Linked DNA regions of Homo sapiens: region 1 is linked to region 2. A link means that fine-mapping ties the variant in region 2 to the expression of a gene that starts in the linked region. Tissue or cell type: whole blood. Region 2 holds a variant in brackets; the other region holds the start of a gene. All regions are shown on one strand. Distances are from middle to middle.

The links. PIP is the estimated chance that this variant, and not a neighbour inherited with it, causes the effect.
Region 1: LGALS8 starts here. The variant in region 2 is fine-mapped to the expression of LGALS8 in whole blood (TOPMed, PIP above 0.99).

Annotation. Positions count from the first base shown.
Region 1 is chr1:236,520,139-236,528,245 of GRCh38, reverse strand. It overlaps LGALS8 (galectin 8), which reads right to left and starts at 4,264. Exons shown (of 10, transcript NM_201544.4): 1 at 4,185-4,264; 2 at 2,131-2,278. The coding sequence starts at 2,175. It overlaps LGALS8-AS1 (LGALS8 antisense RNA 1), which reads left to right and starts at 3,738. Exons shown (of 1, transcript NR_034040.1): 1 at 3,738-5,177. RefSeq lists a silencer at 3,922-3,971.
Region 2 is chr1:236,663,989-236,672,095 of GRCh38, reverse strand. No RefSeq gene overlaps it. Among named protein-coding and RNA genes, the nearest start is that of ACTN2, 18 kb to the left of the region's middle. The variant C/T (reference allele first, on the strand shown) is at 3,462.

The sequences.
Region 1 (8,107 bases), 140 kb after region 2:
CACGCCTGGCTAATTTTTGTATTTTTAAGTAGAGACGGAGTTTCGCCATCTTGGCCAGGCTGGTCTTGAACTCCTGACCTCGTGATCCACCTGCCTCGGCCTCCCAAAGTGCTGGGATTACAGGTGTGAGCCACCATGCCCAGCTGAAAACCGTTTTCCTAAGTCTAGCTTATAAAATATACTAATTGATTATCTTTAAATAACTAAGTTGGCCAGGCATGGTGCCTCACGCCTGTAATCCCAGCACTTTTGGAGGTCAAGGTGGGCACATCACCTGAGGTCAGGAGTTTGAGACTAGGCTGGCCAACACTGTGAAACCCCATATCTACTAAAAACACAAAAATTAGCCGGGCATGGTAGCACGTGCCTGCAGTCCCAGCTACTCAGGAGGCTGAGGCACTAGAATTGCTTGAACCCGGGAGGCAGAAATTGCAGTAAGCCGAGATTGCATCATTTCACTCCAGCCTGGGTGACCAGAGGGAAACTATATCTCAAAAAATTAAAAAAAAAAAATTAATTGAATAAATAAAATAAGTTATTTACAGCCTTTTTTTTTGGAACATTGAAAGGGCAACTAGCTACAAATGAGAGAAATTCAGTGCAATACAGGCCCTTTATACTATAAATATTTTACAGCAGTGAAACGTAAAGAGAGCGCAAAATGTTTTTGCCATTCAGTTCAGTCTACCTCTAACCTTTCCGACTCTTTTGTGAGAACTGATAATAAAACAGAGAATTTTGAAAAGAAAGAAAAAAAAGCTATTTGCCAAAAATATCTCCCTTGGAAATGCATTATCCTCAGAACAGCATCCAGCCCATGCCACAAGACTGAAGGCATTTTCTGCTCTAGCGCAGAACTACTTCTCCAGATCCCCTTCCTCAAGAAATGAAGTCTACTTATTTTTGTTCCACCTCAATAGTTGAGAGTACTGACCCCAGAAACTACAGGAATCAGCAGTATGCTAGAATCAAGATATGCACGAATTTTACCTATAAAATTATCTTCTTTTCTGTGTGAAGGGCAGAAATGAACAGTGTAACCTTTATCCATTCTCCCAGCTTGAGCCAAGATGATACTTCAGACACCCGTGGCAGGCAGCCTAGTTTGTTGTTGTTGTTGTTGTTAAGATCTTTGCAGGAAATCAGTTTACAACCTTGGGATGTTTTTAACTCTAACATGCGCAAAGTCATCTTAAATGTCTCACAAGCTTCCGCTTCAGGAAGTCATCTTTTTTAAACTTACTACCACTGAAAGGCTATTTCTCCTAAAACTGACTTTGCTTGATACAGCAGCGATACCTCATTCTTACACAATGACATTAAAACTTAGGGAAAAAGGAAATACAGCTATAAAGTAAATGACAAAAACTTGAACCCACACACACTAACAAAACTGGTTTAGGGCCTCATTTTAAGGATTCTCACCCTTCCTTTTGCCCAAGAATCTTCTAGGCGGTTTACTAAAAAAGTGGCTGTCCTTTTTCAGACCTCGATTCAGGATTCAGCTTCAGATACGTGGAAACTAGACATTCCTAAAGATTCTCACCACCACATAAAACTAAAACAAGCTCTTTACTGCTCAGGATTACAGGGCAATTTCCAGCAATTACAGTCATTCAGGGATTCTAGGACCTGCCTGAACTGCACGAGACCCTTACTACTTCACACTCTCCATCTCCCCATTGGCTTTTGACATTTTCCCTGCTCAAGGGCCAAGCAGTATTTGAAAGGCTGAGGGAAAGATCGAGACATTAACTTCTCATGGACAGCTCTAATTAAAAAAGAAAATGAAAAACTTGTAGAGTAAGAAATCCATTTTCCTTTAAAAACTACAATTTATGATTAGCTGAGCCTCCTCCCATCACCAAAAGTTGGCATTCCCTCCACTCTACCCAGACGTTCCCTGTTCATAACACTGTTTCATCACGTCATATTATCATTGTGACTTCTTCCTCCACTAGAGGACAAGAGCTGTTTTGTAATCAGCACCCACCACCATCTCTATTACATAGTAGGTGCTTTAAATATGTTCACTGGCTTTTATTCTTGCCCTGTCTCCCAATGGATAATTAATATTCTATTGGATCTGTCCTGGCATAGGTAAAAAGTTATCTTATAGAAATCAGTTACCGGGTTATAGATGATATTCTGTAGGTTGTTTAAGGACAACATCATTCTTTTCCAGCTTCTTGTCGATTGGAGTCTCTTCTGTGTATGACCTAAGATTTTAGGCAAGTTTCATTTAAAGGTTACCTGGATTGAAACTGAGGCACTGGCCCTGTGTAAAGTAAAAATAGAGGAAAAGAAAAGTAAGCATGTAGCATTTTTCTTCATATCCTATTTTAAAATTTAAATTATATATTATGTTACTGATATTTACCAAATAATAGAATATTATTACAATCAACGATCTGCCTCCCATTCTTACCAGTGTGCTCATATACTAAATAATTTTGGATTGTGAGTGTAGGAAATATTGACTTAAAAAATACATCAGTAGAAAATTTCTAACATGGAATTTATTATTAAAAATACTAAAATAGGCCAGGCATGGTGGCTCACACCTGTAATCCCAGCACTTTGGGAGGCCAAGGCGGGTGGATCACCTGAGGTTCAGGAGTTAGAGACCAGCCTGACCAATATGGTGAAATCCCATCCCTACTAAAAATACAAAAATTAGCCAGACGTAGTGGCATGCACCTGTAGTCCCAGCTACTCAGGAGGCTGAGACAGGAGAATTGCTTGAACCTGGGAGACGGAGGTTGAAGTGAGCCGAGATTGTGCCACTGCACTCCAGCCTGGGCAACAGAACGAGACTCCATCTCAAAAAAAAAAAAAAATTTAATTAATTAATGGTAAATACTAATCAAACAGTCCCGTACAATTACCAGAGGTATTCATTTAGATTTTCATTTCCATAAAATGAGAATTACAGTATTCACATCATTGGTTTGTTCTGAGGATTGAGTTAATAAAACAGCGAAAGAGTAAGCGCTATGTTAGCTATTATTATTGTGAATAGAAAGAATTGCTCTTCCTCCTCCAATTTAAACAAATCAAAGTAGGGAAAAATCCAATACTTTTAATACTATTAAGATACGGTTTTCTCTGTTGCTTAAAAAAATAATAATCACAGGGCAGGGGAGTGTTGGAAAGCATCAGCCACATTTTTTAAGATAAAAGCACTCATGGACACTACACTACATTTAATAGCTCCAGGAAAAACTCGACTTTAAGCAGAACTAAAGGGGAAATGAAACCAGAGCTTCCTGTATTTTACTTCCAGCAATTCTGTCATTATACTGCACACCAACAATACACACCGATCAAATCTATCACTTTTTCTTTATTAAGAAAAAAAACTGTATCCCTCTTGGTTTACCACCTAAATATAGCCCCATGTCATTAACTTAATTCGTTAGTCAAAACCTCAAAACTCTGGCTCCGTGACTCAATTCAGGAAGTAAGAACAAGAGCAAAAAGAATGGATGCCGAGTTGCCATACACATGTATAATAACAAGCCAGTGACCCAATTTAAGCCATCTGCTTGCATTAAATCACGCAACCCCCGAAGTATCCCCAGGGACAGGTCCCGCCAGCATGAACACTTCGTATGCATCACAAGCAGCCATCACTTAAGTTTCACGTACGGTCAAAGGAAGTCACATGACTTGCGCTTTGCAATGTTTAACACTGCAGTCAAATGACTCGGCATCCTAAAGAGCGTGTTAGAGGCAGGGAACGCAATGGAGGTCACTCCACTGTCACTACAAATTCCGGGAAGGAAACTTCCCCAGATTCCTCCACTTGGAGGTGGCGCTCGGCCTCAGGCTAGGAGGGAACAGGTGAGAAAGCAGCCCAGGTGGGGTGGGTTTGCAGCGAGGAGACACCCCAGGGCAAACAGCCTGACCCCAGCCAGGGATGTCCAAGAAAGGCCGCGACTCCTGATAATCCCTTATGCCCCGGAGCGCCTCGCCTGCAGAGGCAGCGTCCCCGCCACCCAGCCCCGGCTCTGCCGCGGTGAGGACCGGCGGGTCGGGGTGGACTGGACACTGTCCCACCCATCAAATGGTGATTTAGGAGCCGTGACATCCGAATGCCATCCTCCACTGGCGAGACCCTCAGAGCAGCCACGCCTCTAGCGACTGCCCCGCCACCCGAGGCCGGGGGTCGCGCGACTCACCCAAAGACTGGTGTTTCAGGCGCTCCACGGAGCAGGTTGTTTGTCAGCAGCTAAGTGCCGTCAGGGTTCCCGGCTCTGGCGTCCGTGGGCGGCTACGGGAAGCGACAGGAGTCAGTCCTCGTTCACTTCCCGGCTCGCGCGCCTCACTGCTGTGGTCTCCCCACCCTCCCCGCGCCCCGCCTTCTGTGTCTGGGGCGTCCCTGGCGGCTCTGCTGGGTTTTGGACAGGGACCCGCCGCTGATCGCCACCCAGCTCGGCCTCCTGCACAGCCTCTGGAGCCTTGGACCGCGACTGGCTTGCTGTGGGACGAGCACAGAGGGATAAGGACAAAGAATGTGTCCTGGGTGGATCTGGCTGCCTTTGCCCGGAAGGCGGAGTGGGGTGGGAGGTGGTAGGAAAATGGGAAGGAAAGAAAAGAAAGGTGGGCCGACGTCCACCTGGCTGTTCCAGGCCTCCAGGTCTAGGAGGGAGGGCGCTCGGGGCTGGGACTTTTCAGGACCAGGGTGGTCACCGCACAGGCCCCGCCTGCCTGGACCAAGCGCTGGCCTTCCCGGGGCGCCCAGGTCCACGGGGTCAACGCCAGGGTTTTCTCAGCTTCCTCGTCTGCCTCGGATCCAAGTCCAGACAGTGCCAGAAGAGACTTGGAGGCGCTGCTTTTTGACAGTACACACCTCTGTATGCAGGTGAAACGGTGGGGGAAGGGTTCAGTACGCTGGACTGTGCCCAGCCCAAGCTCCCCATCCGTTAGTGATAACTTGGACTCGCAGCCACTCCGCGTCACTCGCCAGTTATCCTGCGTGTGGGTGTTTTCTCCAAATTGGACACTTAGGGAACAGTTTAAGCAGTATGGAGCACAATTCTGTGCCTATTAGATGCTCTTAAATACCCGACTTCTCAGGGCCCTACACTGACTGATAGTTTGACCTATTGGCTGTAAACACACCAGCCAGAAATACAAATAAAGTTAAACAAAGTCATGTCAGCCACTTGGAATGGCTGGCTGCTTACTGTTTATTTTCTGTTAGGGACCTCAAAGTTCTCATCTTCTCTACTTGGCTTTTATCCACATTTGTTTGGAAAGATATATTTTAGTGTCATTAACGTGGGCTTTCTCCTCCCTGGCTTTTGTTTTCATTATTTTTTGTTTTAATTGAGGAATTCATTACAAGTCCCATAACTGGGAACTCATGTTCTGATTCACTGTTGCTTTTCTCTCCTCCTTACCCATTTTCCAAGCCTGATGCACTTCTCAAGATCCAATCTGAATAGGTGAATTTACCCTTGACATACACTGCCTTGGATTTATAGCTGTCTTTTGGTATGTGTTGTGTGTTTTATCTATCCAACTCGACTGTAGTTTGAGAAAAGGAACTTGTCTTATACAGTCTCCAGTGCATAGTGTAATGCTTTGCATAAAATAGATATCAATGTTAGGTTGAAATGTTAGATTATTGATAAAGTCAGGAGCAATTGAATATCTTCACAATTCTGCCTGAGTCTCCCCCCAGCCCCGCCACTTTGAGACAGGGTTTCCCTCAAGTGATCCTCCCACCTCAGCCCCAGGAGTAGCTGGGACTATAGACGCACACCACTATGCCCAGCTAATTTAAAAATTTTTTTTTGTAGAGACAGGGTCCACTGTGTTGCCCAGGCTGGTCTCAAACTCCTGGGCTCACAATATCTTCCTGCCTTGGCCTCCCACAATGCTGAAATTACAGGCATGAGACACCAAGCTGGGCCCTGAGTCAACCTTGTACTTCTTTACAAAGCTAAAATAAGTTGAAATAAGTACACATAAATGCTGTGTTTCTTTTGTAAGTCATATTTAGGTGCAAACGGGGCTGAGTGAAAGGGCCAGAGAGCAGAGTTAACAAAGAAAATCTGGATTAAAATGTTCATAAATCCTAAGAACTTATTCCTAGAAATATCTCCCTCATTTGGCACTGTTGTTCAATTAGCCCAGTGTGTTATTTTAAATAAGCAAATATTCACTGAATGCCTATCATGGCCAGGCACAGCAGTAAAGAATACTAGCATGCAAAGGACCTCATGGGCCCTTCTAGATAGAGTCCCACATCTCTTACATTATTACTGCAGTATCCTAATCGGTCTCCCTATATTTGCCCTTGCCCCTCTGCAATGTAGTCTCAACACAACAGCCAGAGAAGTCATGACAAAACATAATTCAGATCATGTTAATCCCTTACTAAAACCTACTTTTTTTTTTTTTTGAGGCAGTCTCACTCTGTTGCCCAGGTTGGAGTGGAGTACAGTGTTACATTCTCAGCTCACTGCAGCCTCTGCCTACCGTGTTCAAGTGATTCATGTGCCTCAGCCTCCTGAGTAGCTGGGACTACAGGTGCGCGCCACCATGCCCAGCTAAGTTTTGTATTTTTAGTAGAGATGAGGTTTCACCATGTTGCCCAGGCTAGTCTTGAACTCCTGACCTCAAGTGATCCGCCCGCCTCGGCCTCCTGTAACCTGGGATTGCAGGTGTGAGCCACTGCATCCGGCCAACCGTCTACTAATTTTTGCTCATTCTTTGAGTAAAGATCCAGTTCTTACACGAGCACTTCCTGATCTGCCCGAATCCTCACACACTGTGATTTCATCTCCTACTACTTTCCTTCTCACTTTTTCTGCAGCAGCCACAGCGACTTTGCTATTCTCCTAGCAGGCCTGTCACACTCCCATCCTAAAATCTTTACTCAATATTTCCTTTTCCCTTTTCAAGTCTACTCAAATGTCAGTTCTCAGTGGGGCCCTTCCTGACCACCAATATTTAAAATTGCAAACACTCTCCCAAAACACACTCATACACACTCCCTAGCAACTCTTCCTTGCTTTATTTCTGGCTAACATTTGTCATGCTAATATACTATATAAGGTGCCTTTTTATTTTATGTTACTTCACCCATCATAAGACTATAAACTCCATGAGGGCAAGGAGTTTTGATTGTTCTTGTTTCGAGGAAGCTTATACTCTAGTTGAGGACACATACAGTGATGTGTTTTAGAGAAGATTAAATTGGGAGCACCTGAGTGGCAACCTTAGTTGGGTGACAAGGAAAGTCTCTCAGAGGAGTCAAAGTTTAAGCTGCTGGTGAGTGAAAGAAAGGAAACAGCCATATGAAGATGGTGGGGAAGAGCATTCCAGCCTTAGCGAGCAGCTGCTGCAAAGTCCCTGAGGGTCTTGAGAATGCATTAAATGTGTTCAGGAAACAAAGGCCACCAACCAGTATGGCTGAAGCATGAGGGAAGAATGATATGACATCATGAGATTGGATGGCACCACCTAGGAGAGTAGTGGGAGAAAATCACCTCGGACAGCCCTGGGGAGATAAGACAACGCCAATAAATGAGACTGAGAAGGGACAACCAGGGGAATTTGCTGAGAGTGGTGTCACAGATGCCAAAGAAAGAGAAACAGCCTGTGTGCCAAGTGTGCTGAGAGGCCAAGGAGGACGGAAGTAAGCAATGGGCTTAGGAACATGGATGTCATTGCTGACTCTGACTCTGAAGTGTGTTGAGAAATGGGAGGTGAAGAACTGGTGGAAACCATGACTATAAAGATTTCAGAAAGGTTTGCTGTGAGGAGGAATGGAGAAGCAGCATTATAGCTGAGGAAGGAGTGGAGCAAAGGGCAGATTCAGGTTTTCTCCTGTTGTTTTTTTTTTTTTTTTAAAGAGAAGATACTACATTGGTGACTTTTAGACTTCTTTTTTTTCAAGTGACCTGCCATAAGAATTACATTTCCATTGAGACTTACTACACACATACTTAAAATTACGAAAACAAAAATTTTGACCAGGCACGTTGGCTCACTCCTGTAATCCCAGCACTTTGGGAAGCCGAGGCAGGTGGATCACTTGAGGTCAGGAGTTTGAGACCAGCCTGGCCAATATGGTGAAACCCTGTTTCTA
Region 2 (8,107 bases):
ACTCCTTGAGACAATAGAGAGAAAGGAACAGGTATAGGAGTATGCAGAAGTCATAGGGAAGATGGTGAATTCAGTTTGGGGACACGTTCAATGGTCAGACCCAACTTGTGGATCTAGGGCAAGGAGAGTGATTTGGTTGGAGGAGAGATTTGGAGGGCATCAGCCCTGGCATAGATGAAATTGCCTTTTGAGAATCTGCTACTCAGGTATGTTATATAGGTATGGTTATATAGGTATAAAGATATGTTATATAGATAAGGTTCTATGCTTGGGACAAAGCCTATTGGTAGGACAAACCTTCATCAAGATTTAAATGGAGATTTAAAAATGGTTATTATGGCCGGGTTTGAGTCCAGCCTGGGCAAGTTAGCAAGATCCCATTTCTAGAAAGAAGAAATAGCCATTGTTTATTCAAATTGTAATCAGGATGTATGGATCTACCGAATGCATCAAAAGGCTAGTTTGTTTCATTTTGGCAGAAAGCCTGAAATTTTGCCATTCTATTTTAATCTTCTTTTTCTTAATTTTGTACATTATATTGAGTAATGTGCTTTCATTATCTTTGTCTGAACATTCATACAAATACACTTGCTATCTGAAAAATCATAAAATTGTTAGAAACTTTTATTTTCTTTATCCAAGAGAAATCTCCAAGCACATCTTTCAAAGATCAATTACACTGAGTGTCTCTTTTCCAGTGCTTCATAATGGACCCTGAAGATCTAGACAGAAAAAAGTCAGGTGGTGGAGGAAGTGTAGGAAGCCCACCACTGAAGGGTTATTAAAGGTTCCTTCTGCAAGACTTGGCAATGATAAAGGGATTCGATGATGAGTTTTGTTGTCTCTTAGTCACAGAAAGTAAGCCAAGTTCCAAGTCTCCCCCGGTAATTTAGTCCTTAAGGCAACTTACCTGAAAATAATACAAGTGTTATGAGGCAAAAGGCAATACAATTTTCTCACTTGATAGGGTCCGAGAACCAGAGGACTCTCTTCTAACTATGGACAGGGTACATCTGCACTTGACATTTTATTTTAAACACTACTTTGTGCTTGGGTTAATTGTCTTTGGTCTAAAGTTCTATAGCAGCAGATGACTCATTTTTTCTCCCTCTACTCTTCTCCAATGTGAGAAATAAGGGAGATTAACTATTAGCGAGTATTAGTGATAGGGGAATCTTAGTGTTCATATCCAGGCCTCTCATTTTAAAGATAAGGATATTGAAGCTAAGAGATTAAGGAGTCTGCCCCAGCTCTAATTATCACTACTGTCTAGAGAGGCAGTGTGCTTCGTGAAAAAGAACTGATATTAGAGCCACGTGGACCCAGGTTCCAGTTCCCTAATTATGTGACTCCAGGCAGCTTTCCTTATCACTCTGAGCTTGATTTCCTTCTTTTTTTTTTTTTGAGGCGGAATTTCACTTTTGTTGCCCAGACTGGAGTACAGTGCCATGATCCTGGCTCACTACAACCTCCGCCTCCCAGGTTCAAGCGATTCTCCTGCCTCAGCCTCTTGAGTAGCTGGAATTACAGGTGCCCGCCACCACACCCAGCTAATTTTTTTGTATTTTTAGTGGAGATGGGGGTTTTGCCATGTTGGCCAGGCTGGTCTCAAACTCCTGACCTCAGGTAATCAACCCCCCTCGGCCTCCCAAAGTGCTGGGATTACTGGCATGAGCCATCACGTCCAACCGGGCTTGATTTCCATACATGTAGAAAATGAAAAACTTGGGTTAGAAAACCGCTAACGTCACTCCAAGTTCTAGCATCTGCAAGTGTTTTCTTAAGATTAGAGCCAACATAACCTGATCCCTAGTCCAGGACATTTTAAATCACACTTTACTCCCCCTCACATTATAAGTCATTGTTTATTTGGCAAAAATCTGCTAAATCCTTGCAATTTCAAATGCTTCTGTCTGCAGACCTGCAGCCTCGCCTGGGAGCTTTACACAGCAGAGCCTTGAGACCTCGCAAATCAGAACCTGCATTTTAACAAGATCATCACTGGCTTGTATGCACATTAAAGTTTGAGAAGCACAGTGTTTAAACAGTCTGTGCTGTAGTATCGATCATAACACCTTTAATTAACCAGTTAATGTTTTAAGCTTAAAAATATACATTGGAGGCATATATAAGCAAACTATTAACCATAAGGATCAAACTCACGTCTCACATCGGCAGGACTTCAGAATTTATATTCAAGATCTGGCATTATCACTTATTACCAGCGTGATGTTAGACAAATTATTCTTCAAGCTTCAGCTTCCCCAGCTGTAAAATGTGAATAATTCTTGCCTTGCATACTTCACCAGGGGTATTACGAAGAACAAATAAAATAATGAATGCAAAATAACATTGTAAATGTTTAATACCATAGAGAAGCAACTTTTAAGAAAGGGAATAGTCCTGACTCTACCAATAATAGAACAAAATGCCTTTGAGAAGTTGATAGGATGGATTTTGTTTATAGAGAGAGGTAATTGCCTTCATACTGAGGTCTATGAAATAATGGGAAGGTCTCTTCCATCCTCCCTCATTCATTCTGTCACCTGAGCAATGTTAAAACTTTTCTAGTGGGAGCCGAGATTTCGTAAAGTTCAATACAATAAATAAATAAAAAGACTCGGCCAGGTGTGGTGGCTCACACCTGTAATCCCAGCACTTTGGGAGGCTGAGGTGGGTGGATCACCTGAGGTCAGGAGTTCAAGATCAGCCTGGCCAATGTGGTGAAACCCCGTCTCTACTAAAAATACAAAAATTTGTCAGGCTTGGTGGCGTGTGCCTGTAATCCCAGCTACTCAGGAGGCTGAGGCAGGAGAATTGCTTGAACCTGGGAGGCAGAGATTGCAGTGAGCTGAGATCACGCCACTGCACTCCAGCCTGGGTGACAGAGCAAGGCTCCGTCTCAGAAAAGAAAGAAAGAAGGAAAGAAGGAAAGAAAGAAAGAAAGACAGAGAGAGAAAGGGAAAGGAAAGGAGGAAGGAAGGAAGGAAGGAAGGAAGTAAGGAAGGAAGGAAGGAAGGAAAGAAAGAAAGGAAGGAAGGGAGAAAGAAGGCTCCATCTTAAATCATGACACTGAGCGAAAGGGAAAAAAATCCTCCTCTAAGAATTTATAAACGTAAGCTGGCCCTCACATTTGTTTGGCCTTACAGTCCAAAATCATACTTCCAAAAATCTCAAGCGAACAGTTTAGCTTTAAATAGTCATCAGAAAGATTAGTGAATTTGAATACTTAGCAAGAGAAGTTATTAAAAATTTTCTTTTTAAGACGGAGTCTTGCTCTGTGGCCCAGGCTGGAGTGCAGTGGCCCGATCTCGGCTCACTGCAAGCTCCGCCTCCCGGGTTCACGCCATTCTCCTGCCTCAGCCTCCCGAGTAGCTGGGACTACAGGCGCCCGCCACCACGCCTGGCTAATTTTTTGTATTTTTAGTAGAGACGGGGTTTCACCGTATTAGCCAGGATGG[C/T]CTCGATCTCCTGACCTTGTGATCCGCCCGCCTCGACCTCCCAAAGTGCTGGGATTACAGGCTTGAGCCACCACGCCCGGCCAAGAGAAATTATTAAAAATTTTAAAAAGAGAGAAAAGAGAATTAAAAAACAGAAACAGAACATCAGTGAGGGTGGAACAGTAAGCAGCCTAATAGACCAAGTAACTGGAATCCTGGAGAAAGAAGAGTTAGAGGAGAGCACAGGAAAAACATTTGAAGAAATAGTGACTGAAATTTCCCCCAATTTAATGAAGACCCATAGAGTGAATATATTCTGTGAAGATGAAGCAGAAGAAACATGAAGAAAACAACATCAAATTGCTCAAAATTTGGGACAAAGAAAAAAATCTTAAGAATAGCTAGGGGAGGCCGGGCATGGTGGCTCACGCCTGTAATCCCAGCACTTTGGGAGGCCGAGGCAGGAGGATCACTTGAGGTCAGGAGTTCAAGGCCAGCCTGGCCAACATGGTGAAACCCCGTCTCTACTAAAAACACAAAAATCAGCTGGGCGGGGTGGCTCGTGCCTGTAATCCCAGCTACTCAGGAGGATGAGGCAGGAGAATCGCTTGAACCCAGGAGGCGGAGATTGCAGTGAGCTGAGATTGCACCATTGCACTCCAGCCTGGGTGGCAAAGTGAGACTTTGTCTCCAAAAAAAAAAAAAAAGTAGCCAGGGGAAAAAAGATGTGTTATACACAGAGAAGAAAGACAGGTTATGAACAGATAAGAATTATAACAGAGTTCTCATTAGAAGCAATGCAAGCCAAAAGGCAGTGAAATAACATCTTAAAGTACTGAAAGAACATTGTAAACCAGGAATCCTATACCCAGTGAAAGTGTCTCTCAAAATAAAGGTAAATACTTTTTCAGACATACAAAAGTGAAAGAACTCATCACTAGAAAGAAATGTTAACATCCTTCAAGTTGAAGGAAAATGATGCCCCATCGAAATAGGGATCTCTACGAAAGAAAGAAGAGCGTTAGAAATAGTAATAACATGAGTGAACATAAGATTTTTTTTATTGTTGAAATATCTCTTAAAATGAATGAACAGTTTAGAAAAATAATAACAATGTAATATGAGATTTATAATATATAAAAGTAAAATGTATGGCAGCACTAGCACAGAGTTCAGAAAAAGAGAAATTAAAGAATATTATTGTAAGGCTTGTATATTGCATGTGAAGTAATAAAATATAATTTCAACATAGACCTCTGATAAGTTAAAGATATATACTACAATCCCTAAAACAATTATTAAGATAACAAATCAAGGAGTTAGGGCTAAAACACCAACAAAGGGGATAAAATCATTAAAAATATTCAATTGATCCAAAAGAAAGCAGGAAAAAAATAGGAAAAAGAATAGATGAAACAAATAGGGAACATTTGGAAGATGATTGACTTAAACCTAACCATGTTAATAATCGCATTAGATGTAAATGGTCTAAACTCCCCACTTACAAAACAGATTATCAGACTGGACAAAGAAGTAAGACCCAACTGTATGCTGCCTATGCAAATACACTTTATATATAAAGTTACACAAAGGTTCAAAGTAAAGGACATCAAGAACTAAAGTACATAAAGTATTTACCCTACTTGCAAGTTAATAATCTGGACTGCTCCAGTTTCATGGATGCTGGTAAAAGACATGAGACTCCTGGGTCAGAGGCAAAGGACTTTATTATTCACATCAATAGCAGTAGCCAGAGTATCAACATTTTTGCACTGCTTTCCTGAGTTTCAAATGCGAGATTCTATGAATATTAGAACGATAATCAAGGAATATTTTTTAAAAACTGTATGTCAAAAATTTTGAACCACTTAGATAAAATGGGCAAATTCCTTAAAAGATATCAATTACTAGATTTTACTCAAGAACAGACACTCTAAATAGCCTGATTGAGGAAATTGAAAGTGCAGTTTAAAACCTTACCACAAAGAAAGCTCTAGACTCAGATGGCTTAACTGATAAATTATACCAGAGACATCATTTCTTTTTACTTTTCTTTTTTTTGAGATGGAATTTCGCTCTTGTTGCCCAGGCTGGAGTGCAATGGCGCGATCTCGGCTCACTGCAACCTCCAGCTCCCGGGTTCAAGCAATTTTCCTGCCTCAGCCTCCCGAGTAGCTGGGATTACAGGCATGTGCCACCACGCCCAGATAATTTTGTATTTTTAGTAAAGACGGGGTTTCTCCATGTTGATCAGGCTGGTCTCGAACTCCCAACCTCAGGTGATCCACCCGCCTCAGCCTCCCAAAGTGTTGGGATTACAGGCGTGAGCCACCATGCCCGGCTGACATCATTTCTATATAAACTTCCAGAAGTTGTACAAGAAAGAATGCTTCTTAATTCATCTGGTAGGGCCAGCGTAACTCATACCAAAATCAGACAAAGTCATTACAAGAACAAAAACTATAAGAAAATATCTTTTTATGAACTTAGATGCAAAATATTCTAAAATAAATTGTGTAAATCAAATACAGTAATATAAAGACCCATAGAGTGAATACATTCTGTGAAGATGAAGCAGAAGAAACATGAAGAAAACAACATCAAATTGCTCAAAATTTGATGTTGAGCAAAAAGAAGAATACATCATGACCAAGTGGGGTTTATTCAAGTATAAAAGGCTGGCTTGATGTTCTAAAACAATCATGTAATTCACCATATCAAAAAGCTAATAAAGAACAACCATAGGCCGGGCGTGGTGGCTCACGCCTGTAATCCCAGCACTTTGGGAGGCCGAGGCGGGCAGATCACTTGAGGTTGGAAGTTTGAGACCAGCCTGGCCAACATGGTGAAAACTCATCTCTACTAAAAATACAAAAATTAGCCAAGCATGGCGGCGGGTGCCTGTAATCCCAGCTACTTGGGAGGCTAAGGCAAGAGAATCGCTTGAACCCAGGATGCAGAGGTTGTAGTGAGCCGAGAACATGCCACTCCAGCCTGGGTGACAATAGTGAGACTCCATCTCAAAAAAAAAAAAAAAGAAAAAAGAAAAACCGTATAATTATCTTGATAGTTGTAGAAAAGACAATCCAAAATCCATTCCTGATAAAAAATAAAAATAAAAATAAAGTCTTCGTGAGCTAGGAATATAGAGGAACTTATTCAACCTGCTAGAGAATAAAACAGAAAACATCATACTCATTGGTGACATATTGAATCCTTCTGTTAACTAAGATCGGAAAAAAACAAGGATTTCATGGTTATTAGTTCTATTCAACATTGTACTGGAGGAAGTATCCAGTGTAAAAAGGCAAGAAAAATAAGTAAAAAGTCATCCACATTGGAAAGGAAGAAGTAAAAGTGTCCTTATATAAAAATGACTTGATTATGTAGAGAATCTGATGGAAACAACAAAAAAGCAACTAAAACTAATAAATGACTCTTATAAAGTTTCAAGATGCAAGATTGATGTACAAAAATCTAGGCCAGGTATGGTGGCTCACACCTGCAATCCCAAAATTGGGAGGCCAAGAAGGGAGGACTGCTTGAGGCCAGGAGTTCAAGACCAGCCTGTGCAACATAGTGAGACCCCATCTGTACAAAAACTTTTTAAGAATCAGCCAGGTTTGGTGGCATGTACCTGTAGTCCTAGCTAAGCAGGAGGCTAAGTAAAGAGGATCACTTGCACCCAGAAGTTCAAAGCTGCAATGGGCTATGATCATGCCACTGCATTCCAGCCTGGGTGGCAGAGTAAGACTTTGTCTCTCTAAAAAAAAAATTGTACCATCAAGAACAATCAGAAAATGCATGACAATAATAGCATAAGTCAGGAACGGGTGCTCAGTGTTGCAGTGGTCTTTAGGTCCTCGTTATTGTCCTGGAGGAGGATAAAGATGTCTATGACTTTAGAAGTTGATATCTTAAATGTCATGTTAAAATTCCCATGTTAACTACCAAAAGAATAGAAATAGAATTTATGGCTTTCAAAGTAGAAGTGGGGAAAAATTGGATCGAGGAAAAAAATACTTCCTTTATCTATAAAAAGACAAGAAAGAAGTGAGGAAAACAGAAAATTGGAGCATATTAGAGCAAATGTGAATGTTGAGGGAAAGAATCCAGAAAAGGAGGAAGTAATGATCTGAGGGAGAAATGGGAGATATGGATCAAGGTATCTATGAAAGGAAGAAAGGAATGGGATCAGAGAGCATGAGAAGGGGACAGACAGGGGCTCACTGAGGGAGGAGGGAAGATGGAGATGTGTGCAAGGATGCTTGGGAGTTTGGTCTCAGGGAGATGAGACACTCATGTTCGATGGCTTTTAGAGCCACCAGGGAGGAAAGGGCATCTGCTGAGGGTACCAGAGGAAGAGGGTGGGGAGGTATGAGATGCTGAGAAGTTCTGCCTACTCAGGAAGCGTGGAAAATACCACAAATAGCAAGAGAGGCAAACTCACCCCTTTACAATTGTGCCTGGTTTCCTAGAAGCCTCTTTCCAGATGGTAGGACCATGCAGAAATATAGCTGAGACTGATTTGAAATCATAGAATGGAAACTGAAACCTTTCCTTTCATTTTTGCTTCATGAGCCATCCAACTTCCCCATTTTGCAAACATTCCTGTGAAATCAAGTCACAGAATTATGGAAGCTTAATATCTTAGAGCTTGGAGATCA